Regions from separate parts of the Homo sapiens genome. Here region 1 is linked to region 2. A link means that fine-mapping ties the variant in region 2 to the expression of a gene that starts in the linked region. Tissue or cell type: whole blood. Region 2 holds a variant in brackets; the other region holds the start of a gene. All regions are shown on one strand. Distances are between the middles of the regions. Region 1 holds the start of MYLK-AS1 (MYLK antisense RNA 1). Region 2 overlaps MYLK (myosin light chain kinase).

The links. PIP is the estimated chance that this variant, and not a neighbour inherited with it, causes the effect.
Region 1: MYLK-AS1 starts here. The variant in region 2 is fine-mapped to the expression of MYLK-AS1 in whole blood (TOPMed, PIP 0.91).

Annotation. Positions count from the first base shown.
Region 1 is chr3:123,576,486-123,592,289 of GRCh38, reverse strand. It overlaps MYLK-AS1 (MYLK antisense RNA 1), which reads right to left and starts at 6,777. Exons shown (of 4, transcript NR_121654.1): 1 at 6,737-6,777; 2 at 6,489-6,643. It overlaps HACD2 (3-hydroxyacyl-CoA dehydratase 2), which reads left to right and starts at 7,237. Exons shown (of 7, transcript NM_198402.5): 1 at 7,237-7,417; 2 at 9,961-10,078. The coding sequence starts at 7,263. RefSeq lists silencers at 1,262-1,462, 7,113-7,722, 7,733-7,912 and an enhancer at 6,753-7,052.
Region 2 is chr3:123,602,949-123,618,752 of GRCh38, reverse strand. MYLK (myosin light chain kinase) reads left to right here. Exons shown (of 34, transcript NM_053025.4): 33 at 1-114; 34 at 4,404-8,704. The coding sequence ends at 4,648. All of the region lies in intron 2 of MYLK-AS1 (MYLK antisense RNA 1), which reads right to left. Among named protein-coding and RNA genes, the nearest start is that of MYLK-AS1, 25 kb to the right of the region's middle. RefSeq lists an enhancer at 8,290-8,339. The variant A/TA (reference allele first, on the strand shown) is at 7,430.

The sequences.
Region 1 (15,804 bases), 26 kb after region 2:
AGGAAAGAGGTTTAGTTGACACAGTTCTGCATGGCTGGGGAGGCCTCAGGAAACTTACAATCATGGTGGAAAGGGAAGCCAACATATCCTTCTTCACATGGCAGCAGGGGAAGTGCCAGATGCTTATAAAACCATCAGAGCTTGTGAGTCTCACTCACTATCCCAAGAACAGCATAGAGGTAACCGCATCCACGATTCAATTACCTCCCACTGGGTCCCTCCTACAACACATGGGGATTATGGGAACTAAAATTCAAGATGAGATGTGGGTGGAAACACAGCGTAATTGTATCAACCATGATTGTAAATTTCCTGAGGCCTCCCAAGCTATGCAGAACTGTGAGTCAATTAAACATCTTTTCTTTATAAATTACCCAGTCTCAGGTAGTTCTTTATCGAAGTGTGAAAATGGACTAATACAGAAGATTGGTACTGGGAGTGGGGCACTGCTATAAAGATACCTCAATATGTTGAAGCAAGTGTGGAACTGGGTAACAGCAGAGGTCAGAACAGTTTGGAGGGCTCAGAAGAAGACATGGGGAAGATGTGGGAAAGTTGGGAACTTCCTAGAGAATTGTTGAATGATTTTGACCAAAATGCTGATAGTGATATGGACAATGAAGTCCAGGCTGAGATGGTCTTAGATGGAGACGAAGAACTTATTGGGAACTGGAGCAAAGGTCACTCTTGCTATGCTTTAGCAAAGAGACTGACAGCATTTTGCCCCTGCCTTAGAGATCTGTGGAACTTTAAACTTGAGACAGATGATTTAGGGTATCTGGTAGAATAAACTTCGAAGCACCAAAGCATTCAAGATGTCACATGGCTTTTTCTGAAAGCAAACGGTCACATGCGTTCACAAGGAGATGATCTGAAATTGGAACTTATGTTTAAAAGGGAAGCAGAGCATAAAAGTTTGGAAAATTTGCAGCCTGACCATGCAGTAGAAAACAAAGACCCATTTTCCAGGGAGATATTCAAGCAGGCTGCAGGAATTTGCACAAGTAACAAGGAGCTGAATGTTAATAGCTGAGACAATGGGGAAAAATGTCTCCAGGGAATTTCAGAGATCTTCAGGACAGCCCCTCCCATCACAGACCTAGAGGCCTAGGAGGGAAAAATAGTTTCCTGGGCTAGGCAGGCCCAGGGCTCTACTGCTGTGTGCAGCCTCAAGACATGGTGCCCTGTGTCCCAGCCACTCCACCTCATGGCTAAAAGGGGCCAAGGTACAGCTTGGGCCATTGCTTCAGAGGGTACAAGCCCCAAGCCCTGGCAGCTTTTATGTGGTGTTGGGCCTGCAAGTGTGCAGAAGCCAAGAGTTGAGGTTTAGAAACCTATGCCTAGATTTCAGAGGATGTATGGAAATGACTGGATGTCCAGTCAGAAGTCTGCTGCATGGGCGGAGCCCTCATGGAGAACCCCTACTAGTGCAGTGCAAAAGGGAAATGTGGGGTTGGAGCATCCACACAGAGTCCCCACTGGGGCAATACCTAGTGGATCTGAGAATAGGGCCACTGTCCTCCAGACCCCAGAATGGTAGATCCACCAACAGCTTGCACCCTGGACCTGGAAAAGCTTCAGGCACTCAACTCCAGCCCATGAAAGCAGCCTTTGGGACTGTACCCTGCAGAGCCACATGGCAAGAGCTGCCCAAAGCCTTAGGAGCTCACCTCTTCAATCAGCATGCACTGGATGTGAGACATGGAGTCAAAGGAGAGTATTTAAGAGGTTTAATATTTAATGACTGCCCAACCAGGTTTCAGACTTGCATGGGGCCTGTGGCCCCTTTGTTTTGGCCAATTTCTCCCATGTGGAATGAGAACATTTACCCAATGCCTGTACCCCCATTGTATCTTGGAAGTAACTAACTTGTTTTTGATTTTACAGGCTTGTAGGTGAAAGAGACTTGCCTTGTCTCAGATCAGACTTTGAACTTGGACTTTTGAGTTAATGCTGAAATGAGTTAAGACTTTGGGGTACTGTTGGGAAGGTATGATTGGAATAGCATGTGCAAATTCCCTGAGGCAAAAAAGGAGTACTGCTCGATGGAAGACCTAAGATGAGGCCAGTATGACTAGGAGGGGCATGGTGAGACTGAGGAGGCAGGTAGGGTCTAGTCTATGCAGATTTTTGTATACCATATTAAATATTTTATGCTTTATCCTAAGTGTCATCAAAAGCCATTTAAATATCTTCAGGGGTGGGGCAGAGGAAGGTAGTAGACACGAACAAGGTTGTATGTGGAAAAGATCACTTTGGCTGTACTGTAGAGCAGGGGTCCCCAACCTCTGGGCCACAGACTGGTACAGGTCCATGGCCTGTTAGGAACCCAGCCACACAGCAGGAGGTGAGCAGCAGGCAAGTGAGCATTACCACCTGATCTCCACCTCCTGCCAGACCAACAGCGGCATTAGATTCTCATAGGAACACGAGCCCTATCATGAACCATGCAGGCGAGGGATCTAGGTTGCAGGCTCCATCTAATGCCTGCTGATCTGAAGTGAAACAGTTTCATCCTGAAACCATTCCCTCCCCAGTCCATGGAAAAATTGTCTTCCATGAAACCAGTCCCTGGTGCCAAAAAGGTTGGAGATTGCTGCTATAAACAACAGACTGGAGTTGGGCCTAAGTGACTGCAAGAAGATACATTGAGTTTTAAACTGATTTCCAACTGAACAGAACTTTATGCATTCCTGCCTCCTCCTACTTTCCCATTAAGTAGATTATATTGAAAAAAAAATCAGTCAAATGAATGAAAGAAGCTTTTAGATGAATGATTATTTGGTTTTGTAAAATGGTTCACTTCTTTATTTCTTTTGCAAAGAAATTTTTTTGCCCTCTGATCACAGTGTGCAATTTGGGCTCACCAACTTGCTCTTTGAAAAATTCAGGAAGGTCGGGTGTGGTGGTTCATGCCTATAATCCCAGCATTTTGGGAGGCCGAGGCAGGTGGATCACCTGAGGTCACGAGTTCGAAACCAGCCTGGCCAACATGGCAAAATCCCGTCTCTACTAAACATACAAAAATTAGCTGGGCGTGGGGGCAGGCACCTGTAATCCCAGCTACTTGGAAGGCTGAGGCAGGAGAATTGCTTGAACCTGGGAGGCGGAGGTTGCAGTGAGCCAAGAGTGTGCCATTGCACTCCAGTCTGGGGGACAAGAGCAAGACTTCGTCTCCAAAAAAAAAAAATTTCAGGAAAACAAGGCAACAGAATCTCTGAACAATCTGCCATGGCGGGAAAGGATGGGACCCTGACAATTGTCAACTTATGCCTCTCACTTCATCTCTTGAGGTCTTGAAACTTCTTTTGCAAAAATTGTAACAGTGAGAAAATTATGACTGAGAGAGATCTGATCTAACCAGCCCCCACCTTGACTCTGTAAATCAAAGAACACGATCAAGGCAAGTCTCAATCATTTTAGGAGGTTTATTTGCCATAGTAAAGGATGCATGCCAGGGAGGCAGGTATATGCCTATCTCCAAAGATGATTTTGAGGGCTTCAGTACTTAAAGGGGAAAGGGTGGATACTGGGGGAAGAGAAATTTTTTTTTTTTTTTGAGACAGAGTCTCGCTCTGTCACCAGGCTGGAGTGCAGCGGCGCAATCTCGGCTCACTGCAACCTCCAACTCCAAGCGATTCTCTTGCCTCAGTCTCCCAAGTAGCTGGGACTACAGGCGCGCACCACCACACCCAGCTAATTTTTGTATTTTTAGTAAAGATGGGGTTTCACCATACTGGCCAGGCTGGTCTCAAACTCCTGACCTCCTGATCTGCCTGCCTGGCCTCCCAAAGTGCTGGGATTACAGGCGTGAGCCACCACGCCCAGCCAAGAAATATTTTTAAATTGTGTCAGTAGATAAAAAGATAAAACAGTTGCATCCTTTTGAATACACAATTTTCATGTGAGTGGGGAGTGGAGGAAATATTCATGCCTTAGTCTGGCTCAGTTAATCTGTATTTTTACATAAGATAACGTAGACAATAGGGCAGAGGAAGCAATCAGATATGCATTTGTCTCAGGTGAGGAGAGGGAAGACTTTGAATTCTGTCCTATGTCCCATACCTGTGAAGATATCAACTTACATTGCCAGGTTGAAATTCAACAGAACTGTTTTAGAGTAAAGATCTTTGGGCCTAAAAGGAATTTCCTTGTGGGTAAAATGTGAGGGAAGTATATAGCTTTTATCTTTGTAGCTATCTTATTTAGGAACCAAATGGGAGGCAGGTTTGTGTGACCCAGTTCCCAGCTTGACTTTTCCCTTTGGCTCAGTGAATCTGGGGTTTTCCTTTCTCATCTTTAACCTCCAAAACTGCCCTTGGTCATTCCTGGGCTTGCACCAAGCTAACTTTGGGAGAAACTTAGTTTACAGTTTAAGCGATAATAGCCCCTCCCCAAAACTAAACCACTTTTGTAAAACTAATGAAAAGCCACCAGGTTAGAAGGATAAGAGGAGCTTGAATTCTGCTAAGACATAGGCTTTGTTAAGTTAAATGATTACCAGCCACTATTCCAGAGGTCACTAGATTTGCAGCTTCCCCAGTTCACTACTGTAGAACCTAAGATTGGCCTTTTGAGATAAACTTTCAGGCTTCTGCATTTCGGATGGCTGACGACCCCACTGAGACCTTTGACTCTTGGCTCAACCAGTCCTGTGGCCTCCACCCAGAAGCAGGCTCAGTGCAGGGGGACCATTTTCCACACCCCTATAATTGCATTCCCAACCAATCAGCAGCACCCATTCCTCCAGCCTCCTGCCTGCCAAACTGTGTGTGTGTTGGGGGGGGGGTGGGTGTTTTGTTTTGTTTTGTTTTGACTATAGCTCTCAGATCTTAGCCAAACTATTCTTGAAAAACCCTACCCTCTGAATTTTGGGGGAGATTTGGAGTAATAACTCCATCTCCAAGACCTATCTCATGTCAATTAAATTCTTTATTGCAATGCCATGGTCTCTATGAATTGATTTTGTCTGTGCAGTGGGAAGGAAGAACGTATTGGGTGATTACAGTGTCATGGATTTAAATACCACCACCACCCTCAGAACTCTGAGAAAAGATAATACCTCAAACAGCTCTGAGCTGTCTGAGCTATGTGAAGTATGCAAAAATTTATCAGGCCCAGAGACAAGAGTTTGCCTGGGGGCAACTGTTTAGACATTTTGTTCCTGACTAGCAGCCTCACCCATTATCTTCATGTTCCTGGAATCTGTGATACAAAGAATAGTTTATAGCCAATCAATAGCTAATGTAATTTTAATGTAAATTCTTAGTAAACAACTTAGAAGCTGCCTCTTTTTCCTTTAAAAACCCACTCATAACCGCTGCTAATCAGAGTGTATATTTAGGGTAACTTGAATCTATGCTCCCAGGTAGCCATCTTCAACCTTTATGCTTGAATAAACTTCCTTTAAACTAGATTCTTACCTTTTTTATTATTTTAGGTTGACAACTCTCAAATTTATATCTCTAGCCCATTGGACTTCCTTCCCGAACCTCAGGGTCTAAATTTAATTGTCTATCCAGCCTCTCCACTTGGATGTTTAATAAGGATTTCAAATTCAACATATAAAAAACAAAATTCCCGACTTCCGCCTTAAAAATGGTTTCTTACAAGTTGCTCAAAACGCCTTTGACCTCACACTCCAAAACTAACATATCCACAAATCTTATAATTCTACTTCTAAAATACGCACAGAATTCATTGTTGTTTTCATCACCTCGATTTCCACCACTCTGGCCCACACCACTATCACCATGGCTGGATTATTGTAATAACTTCCTGATACCACTTTTCACCAACTAATACGAGCATTTTCGTCTGGTTCCCTCAGGGGTCCTTAAGCCCCAGGCTGCGGATAGAACCAATCCCTGGCCTGTTAGGAACCAGGAGGCACAGCAGGAGGTGAGCAGCAAGCAAGGGAGCATTACCTCCTGAGCTCCGCCTCCCTCAGATCAGCGGTGGCATCAGATTCTCATAGGAGCGGGGAACCTATTGTGAACTGCGCATTGGAGGGATCTAAGTTGTGTGCTCCTTATGAGAATCTAATGATAAATGTAATGCCTTTGAATCATCCTGAAACCATCATCCACCCCCCCACCACGAAACCGGTCCCTGTTGACCAAAAGGTTGGGGGCCGCTGCTCTATATAATCCCTGGGAGACTGACGACTTTGTCTCTTTCACTTAGTGCCATGAACTCCAGGGCAACTTTGTGGACGCTCCATAAACACTTGCTGGAATGAACCCATAAATATTTTATACTACCACATATACAGTAATACATTTAAGGAGCTGCTTGGGTGTGTAAAAAATTGCAGGGGACGTTTACAAATAAAGAACCTCCTGAAACAAAGCAATGAATGGAAAGTGGGATCAGCTGGTTGAAGCAATGCCCACAAGCTGCTCCAGCTTCCCAAAGCAGAGAGGTTTTCCACCTAAGCCAACATCCTTTTATTTTTAGTCACTATAGCTATAAATCTACTCCCTTACCCCGCACCTCACTCTCAGCCGACAGCCCAATGGGCTTATCCTCCTCTCGCCCTCACGATGAGCGAGTCCACGCGGTCTCAGGCTGGAAGATGCACTTGAACACCAGCCAAGCACTCACGGACGACACTGGATTCTAGGCCGCCTGGGCTTCTCCACTGTACTAGGAATGTAAAATCAAAAGTCAGAAAGAAAACTTCGGAGGTGGAATCTCCAACCCGGCAACGGGTTAGGAAGCAAAGCGCACCTACCAAAGGGCTGGTCCCTGCAGCCTCAAGGGCTGATGGGAAGTGAATCCACCGTCAACCGCCCTGATCCAAAATGGCAGGATACCGGAGCAATAGTGTTCAGGTGTGAAGATAGGGCAATTGAAGAAGGGAGAACGAAAGCATAATTGTTTTGATTCAACATGGAAGCAGTGATTATAGGAGGGCGAATAGCGAGGGACGACGCAACATCCAGCTGGCAGAAGCAGCGGGCCTGGAGAGGGTGGCTACATTGAACTAATCCAAGATGGCGCCGAGGTTGTAACCGGGAGCGCCCAAGAGGCGGGAATTACCCTGATCCAAGATGGCAGTGGCAACTGAGGCAAGCCGAAAGACGGGAGCGCCAGGAGCGTCTTTGCCCTCAGCCAAGATGGCGGCTGCCGTGGACCCTGTCCCGGCTCCGCCCCGCGGCCCTGGCCCCGCCTGCCCCTCGTCCCTTCCTCCGCCCCCTCTCCTCGCGTAGTCCGGCCCGAGCCGCTCGCGCTAGGAGAGCGGGCTTCGGGCACTTGACATGGCGGCAGTGGCGGCGACTGCAGCAGCGAAGGGGAATGGGGGCGGCGGTGGCAGGGCCGGGGCCGGGGACGCCAGCGGCACGCGGAAGAAGAAGGGCCCGGGGCCCCTGGCCACGGCGTACCTGGTCATCTACAATGTGGTGATGACAGCCGGGTGAGGCTGGGGCTCGGGGAGGCGGGGAGCCAGCGCGGCCGGGGAGGGAGCCCTGCGGCCAGCGGCGGGGCGGATAGGATCGGCGCGGCCCGCCGCAGGCAGTGCATTCCCGGCGGGGGGTGCCCGGGACCCGGTACCTGGGCGCTGAGGGCGGCCGAGCGCTGAATCGGCCCCGGTGGCTGCCCGCGAGCTCCCTCCTGCGCTGGGGGTCGAGCCAAGTTCCCAGGCACTGGGGCGCGGGGACGGCTGCCGGGCGCTGGCTCGCGAGGGCCGCGGGAGGAAAGGTGGGGCTGGCCACAGGTGCGGGGCCGGGGGCAGCGGCCGGACTACCTGCGGCGCGGAGCCCGTCCTGGGCGGCCAGATTCGGATGTTGAACGGCGCCAGCATGGGGAGTGGAGGAGCTGTGGCTGCAGAGTGACCATTCATTTGGGCGGCTGTTTTCAAAATCTGGGCTGCGCTTTAATCTGAAAGGTATTGGGAAAGCGTTCAAAGTTTTTGGCCAGCGACATGAGCAGAGCTAGGCTTTAGATGAGTTTAGACTTTTAGGATGGGTTGGGGTGGGGAAGAAACTGGGGAGTAGAAGGCAGAGTTACTGGAAAGGGGGAGAATGGACCCTCGAAACGGTTTTACCCATCTTCTGTCTCTTTCATTTCAGTGCATCCCTTATCCCGGCGGGTTTTTAGTTCAAGCTCTGCCACTAACTAGCTGTGTGACTTTGGATAAATCATCTTATTTCTCTAGCCTCCGTTTTTTCATTTGTAAAACTAAAGGGTTGGTCTGGGTGATGAAGGTTCCTTCAGCTCTGCAATTCTTTATCTTGTCATTTTGGTGAGGAGGATCACAGCATCAGACAGTTATATATTTTTAAGTTATCTTCATTTGTAATTTTTTAAGAAGTCCTAACATTTTATTATGAAAAATTTCAAACATACAGAAGAGTTGAAAGAATTGTATAGTGAACATCCATTTTTATTTAAAGTAGGTGATACATTGTTAGGGTTAAAAATGAAAAACATGAGGGAATACAGTGAAAATCTTTCCTCCCACCTTTCCCTTCTACCCAGCTCCCCTCCCTCGAGGCAGTTAATTTTGTGTATCCTTAAGATGCTGATGCAAGCAAATATGTTTATACATCCCCCTATCCCTTTTTAAAATAAGACAAATGCCAATATATTAATATTTTTACAGTTCAGCACCTTGCTTTTTTTTCACGAAGAAGAAAATATATCGTGGGAGGATCATATATGTATTGCTAGTATTAGAAATGGTAGGTGTTGGAACCTAGGCTCAGAGAAGTTGTGACTTGCATGAGATCATAGAACTTGTTAGTAGAAGTTCCAGATCTAGAAATCATTTCTCTTGACTCACAGGTCAATGAAGAACTAGTACAGATACAAGCTTTATATCACATCAGTGGTCACATAGATTGATTTTTAAAAAAACATCCAGGAATCTCACTGTGTGTATTAATATTTATATATAAAATTCTTGTTGTCTTAGCAAGAGCCGGTGAGGGCATTGGACTGGAGAGGGATTTTGAGGTACATTGGTAAGAAGAAAGAAGTCTATTCCTGAGCAATGAACATAGAGAATGGGGTGGAGGGTAAGGAGTGGTATCTTAAACCAGGAAGATAAATTGGGATTGTGAGAGCAAAGTAAGCTTTTTTTTTAAGGCTGTTAATGGTTGTACCAGTTACACCATTAAATAATTTCTTCTTTTACAAACTCTTACTTGATGTCCTTATGTGATAGTTTTTGGAAATAGCATAGACCACACACACCCCATTGCCTAGTTGATACTATACATTTATCTAAATCCTTCCAGGAGACATACCTTAATAAAAAGGTCCATTTGTTTTATTATGGAACTTAACAAAACATTGTGTTTATTTTTGAGAAGGACAGTGGAACAAAAATATAACATTCACAGCTGTATGCTTAAGTGCTTTCCTGTTTCGTGGTTTGTATTGATCTGGCTTTCATTTCTGCATTGATTTTAGGAAATTTGGCTAAAAAACTTTTTTTTTTTAGCAAGAGCCCTTTATTCGTAATTTTAAAAGGATAGATTTTAAGGTATGGGTAATTGTTCCAGTGAGACAATTATAACAATAGTTTAAAGCATCTTCTTTCCACCCTGTAATTATTAAAAACCCTTTAACTGCACAGGCTGTTTAAAATTTTCCTTTAACTGTTTTTTTCTCGTCTTAGATTTTCTTGGCACCTGATTTAGTGGCACAAGGACCATTTTAGCTTATTCCTTTCCTTTTGGCCTTGATCTCAATAGCAAAGTTGCCAAAAAAATGAGCTCCAGATGGGTGAGGTGCCACTATGCTTTCACTGAGCCCTCTTGGTAAGGTGCTGTCGGTGTTGCAACATTTCAGTGCATTACAGCTTGGCATTTGAGAGCTATCGTCCATAAATCCAGGTTACTCATGCTTGAGGTCACCTTTAGCAATATCTTTTATTGCCACAGCTGTGTGTTAACCTAAATGCTACTTTTTTTATTTTTATTTTTTCCTGATTGCTGTTTTCTCTTTTACTAGGTGGCTGGTTATAGCGGTTGGTCTGGTCCGAGCATACCTGGCTAAGGGTAGCTACCATAGCCTTTATTATTCAATTGAAAAGCCTTTGAAATTCTTTCAAACTGGAGCCTTATTGGAGGTAGGTCCTGAGATTTATTGTTGTTATTGATTTCCATTGGTATGAAGAAAAACATGCAACTAAATTATATTGAAGTAGCATACCCCCTTTGGATTCATGTTAAATTTTGAAATTTTGCCTCCTCACATACTAAAGTGTTGATACCTAGGCTTTTTGATGTTCTAGATTGGGTAGAATCTCATTTAACTTAGGTTACCTTGAATGTATTTTATATTCGACTTTTTTGGGAAATCAACTGAAGCAAGCTTATATTAGGATTTTTAAAAATTCTAGGGACATCCTGGGGAAGCACTGGCAAAATCAGATGCTTTCAGGGTTTATGTAATAGAAATAGTGAAGTTGGTGGGTGTAGGATATTGGAAGTGATAGATAGAAGACATAATAGAGAGCCTGTCTAGAGGCGTCCAAATTTTAAAAATTTAACAAAAATGTATTGATTTCCCTGCATTAAGGGCAATGTATATCCAGCCCTCTCTCTTGGGGTAAGTATAGATTAGGATTTTGGAATTGCAAGGGACAAAAACCCAATTCAAACTATTTTAAGCAAAAAAGGAATTTTCTGGCCTCTGTAGTTGATACAGATACAGGATTAATTTACAAAGAAACTAGCTCAGGAATGAGAACCAAGGAGCTGACACTGCCAGATTCTCTTGCTTTCTCTCATTTCTGCTTGTCTGTTTCTCTTTGAATGTTGGTCTTGGGCTCTCCACATGGTGGGAAACAGGGAGGGTGTTTATTTTTCGCAGCATCTGTGTCACACAGTTCCCAGAGAGGATTCTGGTTGGCCCTACTTAGACTATGCCAGTGATGTGAGGTGCTTGATTAGCCAATCTTAGGACACATGCCCATTCTTCTGTCCAAGGGACTATAGACTTTGCTTATGGAAAAGAGGGATGGGGATAGCTTTGGGCACACAAAATCAATAGCCGCCATAGTTCGTATATTTCATTATGGTGAAAAACCTTCAGATTGCAGGGAAGATCTGGTTCATTTTGCTTAGCCTCCAGGCAAGACCATCATAACATTTATACTTTACTGGCAACTTTTAAAACCTGAACTATGGAATGATACTTAAGAAAAAATCATTTATCTCGCTGGGCACGGTGGCTCACGCCTGTAATCCCAGCACTCTGGGAGGCCGAGGCGGGTGGATCACGAGGTCAGGAGATTGAGACCGTCCTGGCTAACACAGTGAAACCCCGTCTCTACTAAAAATACAAAAATTAGCCGGGTGTGGTGGCACGGGCGTGTGGTCCCAGCTACTGGGAGGCAAGGTTGCAGTGAGCTGAGATCACGCCACTGTACTCCAGCCTGGGCAACAGAACGAGACTCTGTCTCAAAAAAAAAAAAAAAAAAAATTCTTTATCTCATGAAATGAAGTGTGATACCTCTACCTTTCATTCTCAATTTTTTTTTTTTTCTTGAGACAGGGTCTTGTTCTGTCGCCCAGGCTGGAGTGCAGTGGTGCCATCATGGCCGTGGCTCACTGCAGCCTTGAACTCCTGGGACCAAGCAGTCCTCCCACCTCAGCTTGCAGAGTAGCTGGGCCCACAGGCTTGCACCACCATACATGGATAATTTTTAAAACTTCATAGAGACAGGGTCTCCCTGTGTTGCCCAGGCTGGTCTCAAACTCCTTGGCTCAAGCAATCTTCCCATCTCAGCCTCCCAAAGCACTGAGATTACAGGCGTGAACCACTGCACCCAGCCCACTCTCACTTTATTTATTTATTTTTTTGAGAGAGGGTCACTCTGTCACCCAGGCTGAAGTGCAGTGGTGTGATCACTGCTCACTGCAGCCTTGACTTCCCAGGCCCCAGCCATCCTCCCACCTCATCCTCCCAAGTAGCTGGGACCACAGGCGTGCACTACCGTGCCTGGCTCATTTTTATATTTTTGGTAGAGGTGAGGTTTGGCTGTGTTTCCCAGGCTGGATTCACTCTCACGTTCTAGATCAGAAAGTTATCCATTTTGCTTTTGTTTTTTTCTCTTAGAAGGCAGAGGAATTTCTTTTTTTCTTTCTTTCTTTTTTCTTTTTTTTTTTTGACACAGGGCCTTACTCTGTTGCCCAGGCAGGAGTGCAGTGGTGGGATCTCGGCTCACTGCAACACAGAGGAATTTCAATAGTGTCCAAACTTAGGCATTTTAAGTAGGTGGTATGATGAAATGAGCTTCCAGCTGGAAGCCTGAGTACCTTTTTATTTTAAGTATAATAGTTTTCCCAACTGACTCTATAGATTTGGGCAAGTCTTTTCTCTCGTATCCACCTCCTTTTCATTTGTAAATAATTAGGTTAAAGTAGATTTCTAAAGTCCCTTACTACCCTAAATTTGAGTGTGAGGAAATTTTAACAAATCCTAATGTGAACCATTTTTTAAACTTAGAGGCTTGAACTTTTTTTGGAAGCGGACACTAGTAAATAAGTAGTACTTTCTCTTTCAGAACCTTGGCCAGTACAGTTCCCACAAGCTACAGAGAAGCAAATTTGGAGTCAAGACCATCAGACTTCCAGTACTTGATATAGTAGGGGGTTGTCCCCATTTGGAATACTTCAATAATTTAAAGGGGTTTCTATCTCTTTAAGACATCATAATATTAGAGCTGAGCACAGTGGCTCATGCTTATAGTCCCAGCAATCCCAGAGCTTTGGGAGGCCAAGGCAGGAGGATCACTTGAGGGCAAGAGTTCGAGACCAGCTTGAGCAACATAGCAAGACCTCATCTCTACAAAAAAAAAATTTTTTTTTTTTTAGCTGGGCTGGGTGGTGGGTACCTGTAGTCCCAGCTACTTGGGAGGCTGAAATGGGAGGCTTGAGCTTGAACCCAGGAGTTTGAGGCTGCAGCGAACTATGATTGCATCACTGCAATCCAGCCTGGATGACAGAGTGAGACCTTGTCTCAAAAAAAAAAAAACTTGGTAATGTTAGAAGTATAATTTTTAAAATTTAAGTATATCTTATGGAAGGTAGGGACATTAAACAGTGTCATACTTTAAAATCCACTCAGGAACCAAGTCTTAGACTTTGAAGGATTAGCCTGTTTATCCTTATAGAATTTTTAATAGGGATTTAGGAAAATATCTTGGATTTTTGGTTTTATCTCTGTTATCCCCACTAAGAACCAATTAAGTGACAAATCCTGGATTTGATTTTGGGAAAATGTCTGTGCATAAGGAAGTGAAGACTCCCAGGAACATGCAGGCAATTAACGTTGCAAAGGTCAGTGATGGAAGTAATCCCTTGGACTGGGCGATAGAGCAGGCTTGCTAAAACCACAATTTCTGTGGTTGAGGAGTTTTTCATTGCCTACCCCATCTACACTGTGTAATAATTAGATGTGTGTGGTATTGTTTAATTACACATAAGTTATCCTGATGGGAATTATTAGTGTTGACATATATCCTGTTTACAGGAGGAGAAAATGAATCCAGGGAAGGCAGCTACTCATTTATATCTCTTTATGCTAAATGTTATTCTTTATTAGGTTCTGTGGGAGTTTACTTAAAAAGGAAATCGAAATTACTTGTTCTCCAATTTCACATCTTCTTAAGAAAATAATAACACTTTGCTTTTTAAAAGACATAAAAACATTTACCAAGCAAGTACAAAGGAGCATGTAGTAGCAAGGTACAAAAGGAAGCCTGGCTGAGTACCATGGCTCACACCTGTAATCCCAGCACTTTAGGAGGCTGACATGGGGGGATTGCTTGAGGCCAGAAATTCAAGACCATCCTGGGAAACATAGCGAGACCCCATCTCTACAAAAAATTAAAAAATTGGCCAGGCATGGTAGCACATGCCTGTAGTCCCAGCTAATCAGGAGACTGAGGTGGGAGGATCACTTGTGCCCAGGAGTTCAAGGCTACAGTGAGCCATGATCGTGCCACTGCACTCCAGCCTGGGTGACAGAGCAAGACCCCATTTCCAAAAAAAAAAGTATCTATAAATAAAATGCTACTCATGGATAAAATGTGGTCTATGGATATAAACATTCATAAAATTAATAAAGGCAAATGAATTACTGATATATGCCTGGATAAATCTTGAAAAAATGCATGTGAAAGGAGGCAGATACAAAAAGTCACAAATAGTATGATTTCATTTATAAGAAATATCCAGAATAGGCAAATCCATAGTGACAGAAAGTAGAGGAATTGTTAGGGGCTGTGGGGAGAGAGAGTGGGGTGTGACTGCTAATGGTACAGGATTTCCTTTTAAGGTGATGATATTGTTCTTGAAATAGTGGTGGTGGGTGCACAACTCTGTGAACATATTAAAAACCACTAGATTGTACAGTTTAAAATTGTGAATTTTGTGGCATGTGAATTATATGTCAGTTTTTAAAAAACGAGTTCCTCTGTAATGAGTTGTGGGTGTTTTCTACTTTATTCATTTTTGGAGTCCATGATATTCATTGATGAGGCAGATGTTATCTTTGCATATTTGTCAAGTATAGTTAGATTAAAAATTAGTGGACTAATGCAGTTATGGCAGTTTAAAATTATGTTTGAGAGAATTTGGGTTTCTAAATATCTTTGGTTAACATAAGACTGTAATTATAGCAAAGACACTTTCTTTTTTTTTTTTTTTTTTGAGACAGAGTCTCACTCCATCGCCCAGGCTGGAGTGCAGTGGCGCGATCTCGGCTCACTGCAAGCTCCGCCTCCCGGGTTCACGCCATTCTCCTGCCTCAGCTTCCCGAGTAGCTGGGACTACAGGCGCCCGCCACCACACCCGGCTAATTTTTTGTATTTTTAGTAGAGACGGGGTTTCACCATGTTAGCCAGGATGGTCTCGATCTCCTGACCTCATGATCCGCCAGCCTCGGCCTCCCAAATTGCTGGGATTACAAGTGTGAGCCACTGCGCCCGGCCAAAGACACTTTCAAATACTCATGATTGGATATGCCTCTGTGATTGACAGTGAGATTTCAAATGGGTTAAAGATTGCTCTGCAAAGAGGTTAACTGTTGAGATTGATACAGGCTATCTTCAACATATGTACATTGCTGTATATGACATTTACCTACCATTGTGCATCTGGGACTTCCTGATGGACCACAGGAATTCCCTTTTCTTCCCATTCTCTTCCAGATCTTTCTTCTACTTGAAACCCCTTATCTACAAAAATGAATAAACAACCCAATCTCATTTCTGATCGTGTCCTGGAATTGATCTAGGGCAAGGTCTGGAGAAGTGGTGGGAGACAGCAGACAGCTTTTGTTAGTCTTCTAACCCCAGCACTTTCTCAGCCTCATCTGTGTGTTCCTGTCTCACTCTGCAGACCTCACTTCACAATGCTCTTCAGATCCTTTAATGAATAGGAAATTGATTTTGGGTATTTCTATAAAATACAGCAAAGTCTTAGAAACTTGCAGTGTCCTTAAGAAGAAAGATCCCTTCTTATCTCCCTGCCAGTTTTTCTTTCTTTATGGCTCAAACACTAACTGATTTTTGCCATGGAGGTATTGTGCTTCAGACTGCTTTTGTGAACTGGTTTGAGGACATAACCGTTGTCTGTTATATTTTTCCTTCTTGTGGAAACATTCTGATTTCCCAGTAATAGTCTCAAAAAGGAACTTCTGAAATGCAAGCTACATGCATGTGTTAGGCTCCTTTTATTCTGGACCCATTTTGAGGAAACACATCTCTAAAAGAGGCTTTTGAAAAGCTAGCAAGAGCAAGTTATAGTGTAGATATCTAACACAAATAGGAATGACAACAAATCC
Region 2 (15,804 bases):
TCCTTGAGGCTGTTGCTGAGGAAAAGCCTCATGTAAAACCCTATTTCTCTAAGACCATTCGCGATTTAGAAGTTGTGGAGGGAAGTGCTGCTAGATTTGACTGCAAGATTGAAGGTAAGTTGTAGCTGTGCTTCTCTTCACCATGAATAGGGTGTGGCTGGATGGTAGAGTCCCTACCATGCACCGTGGGCAAGAAGTCAGTTCTGTGCAGCTGGGGACAATGAGGAACTGCCAAGCTTTGGGGGAAACTGGGTCAGCAGGAGCTGCTCATAAAGGGCTATGCCCTGCACTCCCACCTCCTGAAGGTGTGTCCTTCAGTCACTTCCCCAGGGGGCACATTTGAAATTTCACCTACTTACATCAGCCACTAGACCTAAGTTTAGAAATGGCCTTGCATGGACTTACCTGGCTTTGGAACATGCTTAGTGAAATGAGCTTTGCAAACTGCTGAAAAGCATGTGACTTGCCCATATGAGGCCCTCAAAGGAAGGCTGGCACAAAGGCATAGGATGTGGAATCGGCAGGCTCTGCTACTCGTCCACAGGCTGTGTGACCTTGGATGGTGGTCCAACTCCCCTGAGTTACGGTCCCTCTGCTGTAAGATGATAGCTAAGTCACGGAGTGGCTCTGGGGATTCTGTGAGGGGACATATGTGAGAAGGGGGAACCTTTTAGATCTTGTAAAGATGTCACAGAGCAAAGGGAAAAGTTGTGGGACTGGCAGGTACAGAGAGAGTGCATGCATTGTGACTTCAGACTGAGGCCAGTTGGGAGCCAGGCACCCGGGACAAAGCACTCAGCCGGCACCATCTTCCCCAGGCTGCTTATCTGCCTGCTGGGAATAATGCAGCCACAGACCTGTCAGTGGTCAGAGCTCAAGGGACCTTAAGGGGTCATGGCATAGCACCTGAGAAATGAGCAAAGTTGATGACACAAAGCGTTTCCATTTTCATATAGATTGCAACCGTCTAGAAAGAGAAGGGACAAGATAAGACAGGCTCTTTGCTTCAAGTCTGTGACTTTCACCTGCCAACCAGGGTGGTGGGTTATCACCCATTTTGGTCTGACCAAATAAAGCACAGAAGTTTATTAGGCAACTTTCCCGAGGCCGCATAGCACAGTACAGCAGTCAAAACAAACTGTGCCTCCCACTTTCTTTGATTCTCCAGCAATGTGACTAGACAATGCCTTTTGAGTAAAATAACCCAAAGTTAGGAATGGAAAAAATAGTTTTTCTTCTGCATCTTTATATTATCAAAGTGCCTTATCAATGCTTCGCCTACCATAGTCATTTTCCTTTCCTCACTCAATTAAAAGAAAGTGGATGTGCTGCCTTTGATAATGTGAAAATTCTCGGACTGGGGATTCTGCTGAAGGCTCTGGAGCCACTGCTTGCAATTCTCACCATTACCATTGCATTTGGGTCTTCTGAAGTTTCTTTTCCTTTTTGAATGTTTTAAAATAACATAATGATTATCATTTTGTACTTAATTTTCTCTTTGGGATTGTTTCGTACTTAATTTTCTCTTTGGAATTGTTTCATTGATATTTATGTAACTTTTGCCTGGGGCTCTGATGAGAAATTAAAGCATATGGATGCTGTTTTGATAAAAACAAAATTGAAACTTTTGCACTGAGGGTGCAGGGCATGGGAGTGGAGGGTACTTTATGACCAGCTCTTCCTGACCCAATTTTCCTCATGGTCTGGGTGTTCCTAATTACTTCGAAAAAACAATTTCTAAAATTATTTTGAAAAAACAACATTGAAAAGAACATTAGAATTCTTGATTTCTTATGTATAATTTTTATTCTGGTTAGGGCTCATATTAGCCTGTTTGCATTGCTATAAAGGAATACCTGAGGCTGGAAAATTTATAAAGAAAAGAAGCTTATTTGGCTTGGTGCCAGTATCTGCATCCAGTGAGGCCTCAGGATGCTTTTAATCATAGCAGAAGCAGGCATGTCACATGGCAAGTGAGAGAGCGAGAGAGAAGGACGTGCCACGTTTTAACAACCAGATCCGCATGAAATGACAGAGCAATAACTCACCCATTACCTCGGGAAGGGCACCAAGACATTCATGAGGGATCGGCCTCCATGACCCAAACACCTCCCACCAGGCCCCACCTCCAACACTGGGGATCACATTTCAACATGAGATTCAAGGGGCACAAATATCCAAACCGTATCAGGGCTACAATTTTTTTCCTATAAAAATACTTCACCAACATTTAAGAGAAAGTCAGGTGGAATATATTGTATATTTTTAAATGTATGTATATATATGACTTTAAAAGCGGGGTACATGTATATACTATGTACCTGCAAACAAAATGCATAATGTTGGTAATGCTTCTGTACATATATATGTACACATACACATTAAATACATATAATATATATTTTATATGCATGTGTATTTTATTTTTTAATGCTGAACTTTGCAGAGATATGACTAATGCATAAAGGCTCATTGGTGAGGTCCATTTCCAATTGTCCATAGGCAAATTACCTGCTTTGGATCAGACTAAGACAAATATTGCTTTCTTCTTCTTAGCAATATTATCAGCTCTTTTAAATTATGTTTTATATAGCTGTTATTAGCTTTATTCAGTTATAATTTATATACTATAAAATTCACCTATTTTAAATGCACAATTCAATTATTTTTAATGAATTTATACCACAATCCAATTTTAGAACATTTTCATCACTCCAAAAAGATCCCTTGTTCCCATTTTGTTTTGACTCTTATTTTTCATTTAAATTATTTCACTTAAACTATTATACAAAATTGAAAATTTAGGCTGGGCATAGTGGCTCACGCCTGTAATCCCAACACTTTGGAAGGCCAAGGCAGGCAGATCACTTGAGTCCAGGAGATCAAGACCAGCCTGGGCAACATGGTGAAACCCTATCTCTACAAAAAATACGAAAATTAGCTGGGTGTGGTGGTGTGTACCTGTAGTCTGAGCTATGCAGTAGGCTGAGGTGGAAGGATCACTTGAGCCTGGACATTGGAAGTTGCAGTGACCCGAGATCATGCTGCTGCACTCCTGCCTAGGCAACATAGTGAGACTCTGTCTCAAAAAAAAAAAAAGATAGAAAATTGTATTTTCGGCCGAGCACAGGTAGCTCACACCTGTAATCCCAGCACTTTGGGAGGCCAAGGCAGGCAGATTACCTGAGGTCAGGAGATACAGACCAGCCTGGTCAACATGCTGAAACCCTGTCTCTACTAAAAATACAAAAATTAGCCGGGTGTCGTGGCGTGCACCTGTAATCCCAGCTACTCAGAAGGCTGAGGCACAAGAATCACTTGAACCAAGGAGGCGGAGGTTACAGTGAGCCAAGATCACGCTACTGCACTCCAGCCTGGGCGACAGAGTGAGACTCTGTCTCAAAAAAAAAAGGAAAAAGAAAATTGTATTTTCAATCTAAGAAGGTATTCAGATCTAGGTGTAGAGTTGGAATTGGAGCAGTATTTCAGGTAGTACTCTATTTTTAATTTTTATTTTTTTGCCATGTTGGCCAAGCTGGTCTTGAACTCCTGCCCACCTTGGCCTCCCAAAGTGCTGGGATTACAGGTATGAGCCACCATGCCTAGCCTCAGGTAGTACTCTATGTCTGTTTAAAGATGGGTGGGTGTGGTGGCTCACACCTGTAATCCCAGCACTTTGGGAGGTCAAGGTCAGAGGATCACTTGAGCCCAGGAGTTTGAGACCAGCCTGGGCAACATAGGGAGACCCTGTCTTTACAAAAAAAAAACTTTTTAAAAAATTAGCCAGGCATGGTGGCATGTACCTATAGCTCCAGCTACTTGGGAGGCTGAGGGAGGAGGATCACTTGAGCCCAGGAAGTTGAGGCTGCAGTGAGCCATGTTCATGCCACTGCACTCCAGCCTAGGTGATAGAATGAGACCCTGCCCCCCTACCCCCCAAAAAGTGAAAGGTGTGATGTTTAACTGAGCACGGTCGCTCATGCCTATAGTCTCACTACTCAGGAGGCTGAGAAGGGAGGATCGTTTGAGCCCAGGAATTTGAGCAACAGTAAGCTACGATCATGCCACTACACTCCAGCCTAGGCAACAGAGTGAGACTCATCACTTTAAAAAAATAAAAAAACTATTAAATAAGTTTTTTAATAGGTGGGATGTGGTGCTAGTCCAACATGTGTGGGAAATGGAACAACTTTAAAATATTCTATTTGGGGTTTCAGATATTGGTATTTACAAGACATGTCCATATTCTAATGTAGATATCAAAACAGTCGATAAAGGCCAACATCAAAATTTTCTCCTTAACCACCTTAATCAATAGTGGTAGCTTACAAGTTGCTTGCATGAGTTGATAAGAAATTTTGAATAACAGTTCCTGCAACTTGTGTTCTCTCCCTGTGATGCAGGATACCCAGACCCCGAGGTTGTCTGGTTCAAAGATGACCAGTCAATCAGGGAGTCCCGCCACTTCCAGATAGACTACGATGAGGACGGGAACTGCTCTTTAATTATTAGTGATGTTTGCGGGGATGACGATGCCAAGTACACCTGCAAGGCTGTCAACAGTCTTGGAGAAGCCACCTGCACAGCAGAGCTCATTGTGGAAACGATGGAGGAAGGTGAAGGGGAAGGGGAAGAGGAAGAAGAGTGAAACAAAGCCAGAGAAAAGCAGTTTCTAAGTCATATTAAAAGGACTATTTCTCTAAAACTCAAAAAAAAAAAAAAAACTCAAGATAGTAAAAGCACCTAGTGTGATAGATTATCGGTTAGGTCATTTGTGGGTTGATTCTTCAGAAACAGCAGTTGATACCTAGCAGCGTTATTGATGGGCATTAATCTATGTTAGTTGGCACCTTAAGATACTAGTGCAGCTAGATTTCATTTAGGGAAATCACCAGTAACTTGACTGACCAATTGATTTTAGAGAGAAAGTAACCAAACCAAATATTTATCTGGGCAAAGTCATAAATTCTCCACTTGAATGCGCTCATGAAAAATAAGGCCAAAACAAGAGTTCTGGGCCACAGCTCAGCCCAGAGGGTTCCTGGGGATGGGAGGCCTCTCTCTCCCCACCCCCTGACTCTAGAGAACTGGGTTTTCTCCCAGTACTCCAGCAATTCATTTCTGAAAGCAGTTGAGCCACTTTATTCCAAAGTACACTGCAGATGTTCAAACTCTCCATTTCTCTTTCCCCTTCCACCTGCCAGTTTTGCTGACTCTCAACTTGTCATGAGTGTAAGCATTAAGGACATTATGCTTCTTCGATTCTGAAGACAGGTCCCTGCTCATGGATGACTCTGGCTTCCTTAGGAAAATATTTTTCTTCCAAAATCAGTAGGAAATCTAAACTTATCCCCTCTTTGCAGATGTCTAGCAGCTTCAGACATTTGGTTAAGAACCCATGGGAAAAAAAAAATCCTTGCTAATGTGGTTTCCTTTGTAAACCAGGATTCTTATTTGTGCTGTTATAGAATATCAGCTCTGAACGTGTGGTAAAGATTTTTGTGTTTGAATATAGGAGAAATCAGTTTGCTGAAAAGTTAGTCTTAATTATCTATTGGCCACGATGAAACAGATTTCAACTGATAAAGAGCTGGAGAACTCCATGTACTTTGGAATCTCCTCCAAGATAGCCAGAGTTTAATACATCTTCATTCTCAACACTCTCCAAAGAACTTGACCTACCTTATGGGTTCCATATTTTTCTTCTTAAATGTGCATCAATCATGCCTTGCCCCCAACCTTTAAATATATTCTTAGACCTGGTAAATGCACTCAGACTTGCGTCTTTAGGAATTTTTAACTTTCTTTCACTACATTGGCACTTAAATTTTTTCTTTATAAAGCTTTTTGAAGGTCATAAACAAAGACCATAATTGATGATAGACCTAATACATTTCCTCTGTGTGTGTGTGTAACATTCCAAATACTTTTTTTTTCTTTTCCACTGTTTGTAAGGTGCAACAATTTAATATTTTTAAGGGACTTTTTAAGAGTTCCTTAAGAACCAATTTAAAATTACTTCAGTGCAATCCTACACAGTATCAACATTAGAATTTTGATATTAGTCTTATGTTATCTTCCATTCTATTTTTATCTGCTTTTTGCTGCTAGTTTCAAACTGCCAGTATTTTTCCTTTTGCTTTTAAAATAGTTACAATATTTTTCATGATAGCCACAGTATTGCCACAGTTTATTATAATAAAGGGTTTTTATTTGATTTAGCGCATTCAAAGCTTTTTTCTATCACTTTTGTGTTCAGAATATAACCTTTGTGTGCGTGTATGTTGTGTGTGTGCATGTGTGGCGTATATGTGTGTTACAGGTTAATGCCTTCTTGGAATTGTGTTAATGTTCTCTTGGTTTATTATGCCATCAGAATGGTAAATGAGAACACTACAACTGTAGTCAGCTCACAATTTTTAAATAAAGGATACCACAGTGCATGCTGTTTGTTCAATCTTTGCAGACTTCTCTTTCTTTCCATGCTACCAGTTGTAAAGGACACAGCTATATCCTGGAAATGAAAAACAAACACTGTGGTGCCTAGATGTGAAGAACTGGCTTATGTGGTTGTGTTTTGCTATGGAACAGAATGATTTAGGAAGTTCTTGTTTATATAGGTAGCCGAATTTACACATTTAGTTCAAAATTTCTCTTGAGCATCAGCTTAGTACTATATCAATCATTCTAGAAGGATATCTTATAGAGCAGGTGTCCCCAACCCCCGGTAAGTAGCCTGTTAGGAACCAGGTCACACATAAGGAGGTTAGCAGTGGGCAAGTGAGCAAAGCATCATCTATATTTACAGCCGATCCCCATTGCTCGCATTACCGCCTGAGCTCTGCCTCCTGTCAGATCAGCGGCAGCATCAGGTTCTCTCAGGAACGAACTCTATTGTGAACTGCTCATGTGAGGGATCTAGGTTTCACGCTCCTTATGAGAATCTAACACCTGATGATCTGTCACTGTCTCCCATCACCCCTAGATGGGACAGTCTAGTTGCAGGAAAACAAGCTCAGGGCTTCCACTGATTCTACATTATGATGAGTTGTATACTTATTTTATATTATAATAAAATATATTATTACAATGTAATAATAATAGAAATAAAATGCACAATACATGTAATGTGCTTGAATAATCCCAAAACCACCCCCTCTCCTGGTCCATGGAAAAACTGTCTTCCATGAAAGTGGTCCCTGGTGCCAAAAAGGTTAGGGACCACTGTTACAGAGTATCAGGTCCTCAAGATGCTAAAATCTATATGACATTTTTAACATGTGACATTATCATCATCATCATCATCATCATCACTGATGATACTATTTACCAGGGCATGGTTTGAATTGGTGACTTTGGTGCAGTTCATTATTGGCAGCCAAATGCTTTATCCATACCTTCATATTGAAGAATTTGTTATCAGGAAACT[A/TA]CCAGTCCTGCTTTACAGGAAGTCTGTTATCAGATATCAGATGGCAAGTTCCCCATGTCTTCAGATGTTCAAACAATATTGTGGATGGTCTAGAAAGAGTTTAAGACATGCTGTTAAATGTAGGGCTAGATAATTCTCTGATTCTTTGATGTAGTCTGGAAAGAAACAATCCATTGTCCAGTTAATAAATATTTAGTGTTTTCATTTTTAAGACACTCACAATCCACAAATGTCCCTAACAATTTATTATTTTTAAAGAAAATGACTTTTTATTCCTTGCTAGTGAAAAATGTACAATTTATATGCTGCACTGAGAAAAATAACAGATATACTTTCTTCCATTCATTTTCATCCCAAACATATAAAAAATAATCCATTGATTGTTCCTTGCATTGCATATCTTATTAAAAGATATTTCCTACATGCAACTAATAAGACATGCTGACTGTTGTCAGCTCTAAATTTATGTAAAGATTTTTTATTTTTGTTAAAATGTTTGAAATTTGCTTTTTGCTCCACACCTCACCTGTTTTTGATAAATCTGTGCTAATAAGTACATAGGAGGTAATAAATAATTGAGTTGTGAGAAACCCAATTCTCCATTTTTCAAGAAAACACAAGTAGCACTACTCTCTTTATCCCTTGGGACTCCTTCCTGTAATTTGAAAGGGGGGGCTAATGTTGGTGGCAGTTGTTGCTAAGGATCTCTGCACAGAGTTAGGGCTTCACTCTCGGCTTCCTGGTTAGATGGGGCCATGTGACTAGTCCTAGTCAGTGAGCTGTGACCAGAAGTGATGTATGTACCCTCGGGACCAGAGCATTTATGTGCTGGTACAAGCCTCTCCATAATGACGGGCAACACATGAGATGGTGGCTGCTGCAGCCATCTGGGTCTCTAGCCAACCCAAAATGGGGACATAACACAAGCAAGAAATAAACATTTGTTCTTATAAATCACCAAGATTTTGGGGTTCTCAGTGGCTGCAACATAACCTAGACTATCCTGATACAGGCTTATCACCATGTTCTGGATGTGTGGTGACCAGGATGGTAGCCACTACTCACAAGTGGCTATTTAAATTTAAGTTACTTTAAAAAATAAAATAAAAAATTCAGTTCCTCAGTTGTATGAGTTACATTTCAAATGCTCGACAGTCACATGTACATCACTTTTCAAATTATGTGAAATTAAAACTGAAAAGCTTGTGTGAAAGTCTAGAGAGTATGGTCTATAGTTTCATCAATTGTATTGGATAATATAGTCTCGATACTCAAGTGTTGTTGTTCTTAATTCTTTATTTATATTCAAATATAGTTTTTCACTTTTTAAGACATTTTAAAGGCTGGGTACAGTGGTACACACCTGTAGTCCCAGCACTTTGGGAGGCCAAGGCAGGAGAATCGCTTGAGGCCAGAAGTTCAAGACCAGCCTGCACAACATAGCAAGACCCCATCTCTATTTCTTTAAAAAAAATTAATTAAAAAATAAAAAGACATTTTAAAAGTACCAGTTCTGGCCAGGCGCGGTGGCTCACGCCTGTAATCCCAGCACTTTGGGAGGCCAAGGCAGGCGGATCACGAGGTCAGGAGATCGAGACCATCCTGGCTAACACGGTGAAACCCCGTCTCTACTAAAAATACAAAAAATTAGCCGGGCGTGATGGCGGGCGCCTGTAGTCCCAGCTACTCGGGAGGCTGAGGCAGGAGAATGGCATGAACCCGGGAGACAGAGCTTGCAGTGAGCGGATATTGCGCCACTGCACTCCAGCCTGGGCGACAGAGTGAGACTCCATCTCAAAAAAAAAAAAAAGTACCAGTTCTATGCTTCTGACCTCAAAATCTAAATAGTCCTGCAATTCACAAGCAACTCTCAGATTATTTCTGATATGAGACAACCAACAAGGCCAACATTCTCCAACGTCTTTGGAATTTGCTACTTGAGATGGGGGATCACCAGTGGGGACTATGAGATGGATGCAGAAAGGGAGACAGGGCTGCTGAGGCAGAATTTCCTCAACCATGGGTCAAAAGGCAGAGGAGCCATCCTGAGGCTACAATCCTTCCAAACTCAGCTGCCTTTTATCAGAACTCCCTTCCCACTGGAATTCAAAACACTCAGGAGATCTAAAGTGCTTGGGGACAACATTGAATTTCTAACCGCTGCTGGCTGGAGATTTTAGCCCATAGGCCTTACCCGTGTTCCAAATGCTTATACCCTGCAGGAAGCGCTTCATGTCAGAGACTTCAGTCCCCCGAGTCTCTGTTTGAGGCCTGTGGTAAATTTTCACAAGATATTTTGTGACTCTCTTAGACTAGATTTCTTTCGGCTGGAGATAACTAAGGGAGAAGGAGGTTACAAATTAACCTAAGTCAATTTGGTCATTCATATTTATTATTAATAACATCTTTAAGGCAGGTATCAGTAGCCTCCAATAGTTAAGATAAGATTGAGCTATGGGGCTTCTCCACAACCACGCTTCAGGTGGTATGTTTCAAAGATAGTCTCAGGCCAAACTTGTCAAACACCTATTAGCCAGCAGCCATACAACCGATTCTGCAAGCTCCATGAAGTCCCAGATATGCCTCTCCAGAAAGCACCTTGCATGTTGTCACTGAAGGCAAATCCTGCAGTGTGCTTGGGTAGGAGGCAGCTAACCTGGTTAATCAGTGGAGTCAGTTCCTCTTGGTGCTATCCTAGGAACCAACTTGTCCAACTTACCCACCATTTTCATTCCCTCTGTAAAATAAGTTACTACCTCTTACCTCTACCTCTTACTACAGCTGTGTAGCTTGTGCCTCAGTTTCCACAGTTATAAAATTAGAGTTATAGTAGTTCCTCACTCATGGCTTGATAGAAAGATTAAACAAGCTCTATGTGCCTGACCTTATGGTACGCCCTCATTCTGGCACTCAGAGATGCTAAGATGTATCAGAAACAATCTCTACTCTGAAAGAACAGATTACATTTCTGCAGGAAAAAAAAAACCCCAAATATGTGAAAAAGTTATATTCAGTCAGCCCTCTGTATCCATGCATTCCAAATCTATGGATTCAATCAACTGGAGATGAAAAATATTTGGTGGGAGGCTAGGTGTGGTGGCTCGTGCTTGTAATGCTAGCACTTTGGGAGGCCGAGGTGGGCAGATCACCTGAGGTCAGGAGTTCAAGACCAGTCTGGCCAATATGGTGAAACCCTGTCTCTACTAAAATATAAAAATTAGCTGAGCATGATGGCAGGTGCCTGTAATCCCAGCTACTAAGGAGGCTGAGACAGGAGAATTGCTTGAAACCGGGAGACAGTGGTTGCAGTGAGCCGAGATCACACCACTGCACTCCAGCCTGGGTGGCTGAGCGAGATGCTGTCCCCAAAAAAAAAAAAAAATATATATATATATATATATATATATATATATATATATATATATATATATAAATAAACTATATATGTAAAATTATATATAATATATAAAATATATATTATATATAATATATAAAATATATATACTATATATCATATATATTATATTATATATTATATATAAAATATATTATTATATTTATATATTATATATAAAATATATATATAATATAAAATATAGTATATAAAATGTAAAATATATATAGTATATAAAATATAAAATATATATAGTATATAATATAAAATATATAGTATATAATATAAAATATATATAGTATATATAATATAAAATGTATAGTATATATAATATAAAATGTATAGTATATATAATATAAAATATATAGTATATATAATATAAAATGTATAGTATATATAATATAAAATATATAGTATATATAATATAAAATATATATTATATATTATATATAATATAAAATTATATATTATAAAATATATATTATATATAATATAAAATATATATTATAAAATATATATTATATATAATATAAAATATATATTATATATATTATATAATATATAATATATATTTGGGGGTGGGGAGTTCCACAAAATTCCAAAAAGCAAAACTTGAATTTGCTGTTCACCTAGTACTACATTGAATCTATGTGAAAGAAGTGATGTGTAGGCATTGTATTAGGTATTATAAGTAATCTAGAGATGATTTAAAGCATACAGGAAAATGTGCATAGGTTACATGCAAATACTACATATGCCATTTTATATAAGGGACTTGAGCAACTGCAGATTTTGTTATCTGTGGGGGTGTCCTGGAACCAATACCCCACTAACAACTGTACTAAAGATGGAAGGTATTATTTTAAGTTCTACCCACCTCCCAAAAAAAAGGATCTTTGAAACTGAAAGTGCCATGCAATTGTACAAAAAAACAATTGCTGTGAGTTTAGGAAATGTTACAAATCTAAATCTCGTTCTAAGGAAAATTTTAACTTCCAATCCCTAAATATTCCCTTCTTAACAGTCAAAGGAGAAAAGCTCATCTGACCTTATGAATATTATTTTTCTATCAAGAGGAAATTTCCCAGAGTTAGCTTGACTTAAACTAATTACACTTTAAGTTTTATCCTGACACATCCCCTAAGTTCTAATTGATATTTGCAAAAGCTGACTTACATTGACTTGTTTCTGGCTGCATATTAACCACAGAACAAATAGGGCTCTGAAGGCTGAGTAGATGTCTTTTTCAAATTGTCTAGAAAGCTAAAAACTGAGACTCCTGTTTTCAGAAGAATCAGGAGATGAAGGAAATATCAGCTTAGGAAATAGGAACCTACCACAGTAGAGAGAAAGTCAAACATGAATTACTCAAGAGAAGCAGTGATTCTCTACCCCTCAGAACTTCCATTAAACTGATAGTAAAGGGATAACAATGTTTTTAAAAAAGATGTCCCCGGTGTGTGATGTTCCCCTTCCTGTGTCCATGTGTTCTCATTGTTCAGTTCCCATCTGTGAAGGTAACAAACCTGCACATTGTGCACATGTACCCTAAAACTTAAAGTATAATAATAATAAAATAAAATAGAGATATAAACTCTTCAAATATAAAGACAAATACAGGTGATGATAGATGGAAAATGTCAGAATTATGGAAGATGGAAAACAAAGAATGGATAACTGACGTAGAGCAGAGAAACTGAAGCTAACATCCTGCATTGGAGGAAGCCAACAGAAAGACAAGTCAGTCTGCCCTGAATTCCCCAAAGGCTAGAGGCTAGACAGCCAGGTACCTATGAAAGGGAGCCTCACAAGGTATGACTCATACATGCAAACCAAGGTCTTTGAGGTCAAAGCAGCTCAAAAGTCCACTAGGAGATAAAGGCAGAGGCAGGGATTGTTGGGAGTTAGGACAGAGCAGGGGCCAAGAGTCAGGAGGTTACTCTGGACTCTTCGATACTACCCATGTCAAAGTGCAGAAAAGACTCTGATCCCAGAAAGGCAGTTGTTTGCTTAAGGCTTTTTAAAACACCGATTAGGCTGGGCACGGTGGTTCCCAACTGTAATCTCAGCACTTTGGGAGGACAAAGCGAGAGTATTCCTTGAGCCTTGAAGACCAGCCTGGGAAACATAGGGAGACCCCGTCTCTACAAAAAAAAAAATAAAAACAAAAATAAATTGTGTTTTAATTAGCCGGGTGTCATGGTATGTGTCTGTAGTCCCAGCTTCTTGGGAGGCTGAAGAGGGAGGATTGCTTGGGCCTGGGAGATTGAGGCTGCAGTGAGCTGTGATCACGCCACTACACTCCAGCCTGGGCAAAAAGAATGAAACCCCATTCTTTTCTAAAGAAAAAAAAAAAAAGACAGATTAGCTTCTTTAAAGTTAAATTGGTTGTCCAAGAAGCCAAATCATTTAGACTTTCAATAATGCACCCTCTTAATGAATGCCTTATATTCATTTATTTAAAATAGAAACTCAGTTGACTAATCTCCATTTAATCCAACTTGCCCAACTTAACCACAACTCTCATTCCTTCTGTAAAATGACTAATGCCCGCATACTTCTGTCCCCACTAACTGAGGTGCATATTTACCAAGAGTCAAAATGTGTTTGTTCTTTTTTTTTTTTTGAGACAGAGTCTCACTCTGTCGCCCAGGCTGGAGTGCAGTGGCGCAATCTCGGCTCACTGCAAGCTCCACCTCCCAGGTTCACACCATTCTCCTGCCTTAGCCTCCACTACAGGCGCCTGCCACCACGCCCGGCTAATTTTTTTGTATTTTTAGTAGAGACGGGGTTTCACCGTGTTAGCCAGGATGGTCTCGATCTGCTGACCTCGTGACCCACCAGTCTCGGCCCCCCAAAGTGCTGGGATTACAGGCGTGAGCCACCACGCCCGGCCAAAATGGGTTTGTTCTTAAACTTATTTATGCCAGTTGTACTTGTCATTGTAATTATATCATTTGATTAAGTATTACATAAAGCAACAAAAATCGAGTACTAAGGAGAAAAGTCCTTGTTTCTATGGAAGCTAAATTGAGACCACTTGTCATGCCCGGCAGATTGAACACCTGCATTTTCTCCTGTTTCTCCCAAAACCTAAATAAAGGAACAAAAGGCATAAATCCATAAGGGCAAAGAATGAGAAAGGAGATACATTAGAGTTGAGATGTCAGCAAAATTTTGGAATAGGCTAATTGGTAATTAAGTTTCAACTTTTTCCATTCTGCAAGTGTCTGCAGGGGAGAAAGCCTCAAAAACAAGGTGATTCAGGCTGGGTGTGGTGGTGCATATCTGTAATCCTAGCTACTCGGGAGGCTGAGGTGGGAGGATCGCTTGAGCCCAGGAGTTCAAGGCTTTAGTGAGCTATGATCATGCCACTGCACTCCAGCCTGGGCAACAGAATGAGACCCTGTCTCAAAAACACAAATGAAAAAGGCAAGGTAATTCCTACCACAGAATTAGCAAAAGCAGGGGAACTAGATATTCCCCTCATCTCCTCCTCCTCTAGCCCATATGGCCAGCTGACAGTTCCTCCCCTCGACCCTGGCAGGAAAGTGGATCTTTTAAAGTTGGACTGGAGAGACCACGGACTGGTGGACAATAGGCACAACTTGGTGGGTGAGAGGGAGGCAACTGAGAAAACTCAGGGACTGGGGAGAGTCTGCACACTGACCTTTGAAACTCCAGCCCTCTCCTACTGCTTGGCTGCCACAACTCTGACTACAGGGCAAGACTGGCTACAGAATTTGCAGGGCCCAGTGCAAAATAAAAATGTAGGGCTCCTTGTTTAAAATAAAATTTTCAAGATGGCAAAATTTCTCTTAAATGGTCCAATACTGTGATAAATTTAGTAAGAGTTAAATCTTGAATCCCAAATCTAAGTCAGTTACACAATTTATATGTTAAATTGGAATCACAGGCTAATCTATTTCTCTAATATGCCTTTTTTTTTTTTTTTTTTTTTTTTTTTTGAGCAGAGCATTAGAACAAGTGTGAGGTCCTTCTAAGAGCAGGGCCCTGTGAGACTGCATGGGATGCTGGCCCATGAAGCCAGCCCTGCTGCAGGTTATTCTTGCACAAGCAAGGGATTGAAGGACTGTTCTTGGAAACTGGACAATCTAGAGAAATGACCCACATATACTGTCATATGGGAATTTCTCAATAAAAACATCCAATTCTCATCAAATTGTCAATGTGGGTACTTTATGCATTTAATGGCAATTTTTTGCACACAGAAAAATTATTCAGAGACCAGTTTGTTCTTTTTAATTCATATTTTACCTATTGCAATTTTTAAAACCTAGTTCTTCCTTAAACTTTTAAATTCAATTTCCAGATCTGATTTGGTAGGTTTATAAAATCTACCAAAATGCAATATTAACTTTTAAGGGAATTTTTAGCATCTAATTAATTAATTCCCTTAATCATTTTTAAATCATGTTCATAAATGTAATAAACACCTGTAATCCTAGCTACCTGGGAGGCTGAGGTGGGAGGATTGCTTAAGGCCAGGAGTGCAGTGAGGTATGTTTGTGCCACTGCACTCCAGCCTGGGCAACAGAGTGAGACTCTGTCTCAAAAAACAAACAAACATGGCTGGGTGCAGTGGTGCACATCTGTAATCCCAGCACTTTCAGAGGCTGAGGTGGGCAGATCACTTGAGGTCAGGAGTTCAAGACCAGCCTGGCCAAATGGTGAAACTCCGTCTCAATAAAATAATTAGCCGGGTATGGTGGTGCATGCCTGTAATCCCAGCTACTCAGGAAGCTGAGGCAGGAGAATCTCTTGAACCCAGGAGGCGGAGGTTGTAGTGAGCTGATATGGCCTCACTGCATTCCAGCCTGGGTGACAGAGTGAGACCCTGTCTCAAAACAAACAAACAAACAAACAAATGAAAATTATTACTAGTGTATAATAATTTCATTTTCATTTTAAATTCTTCAATTGGCTTATAACAAAACTTCCCAAGAAAAGCTCCTACAAA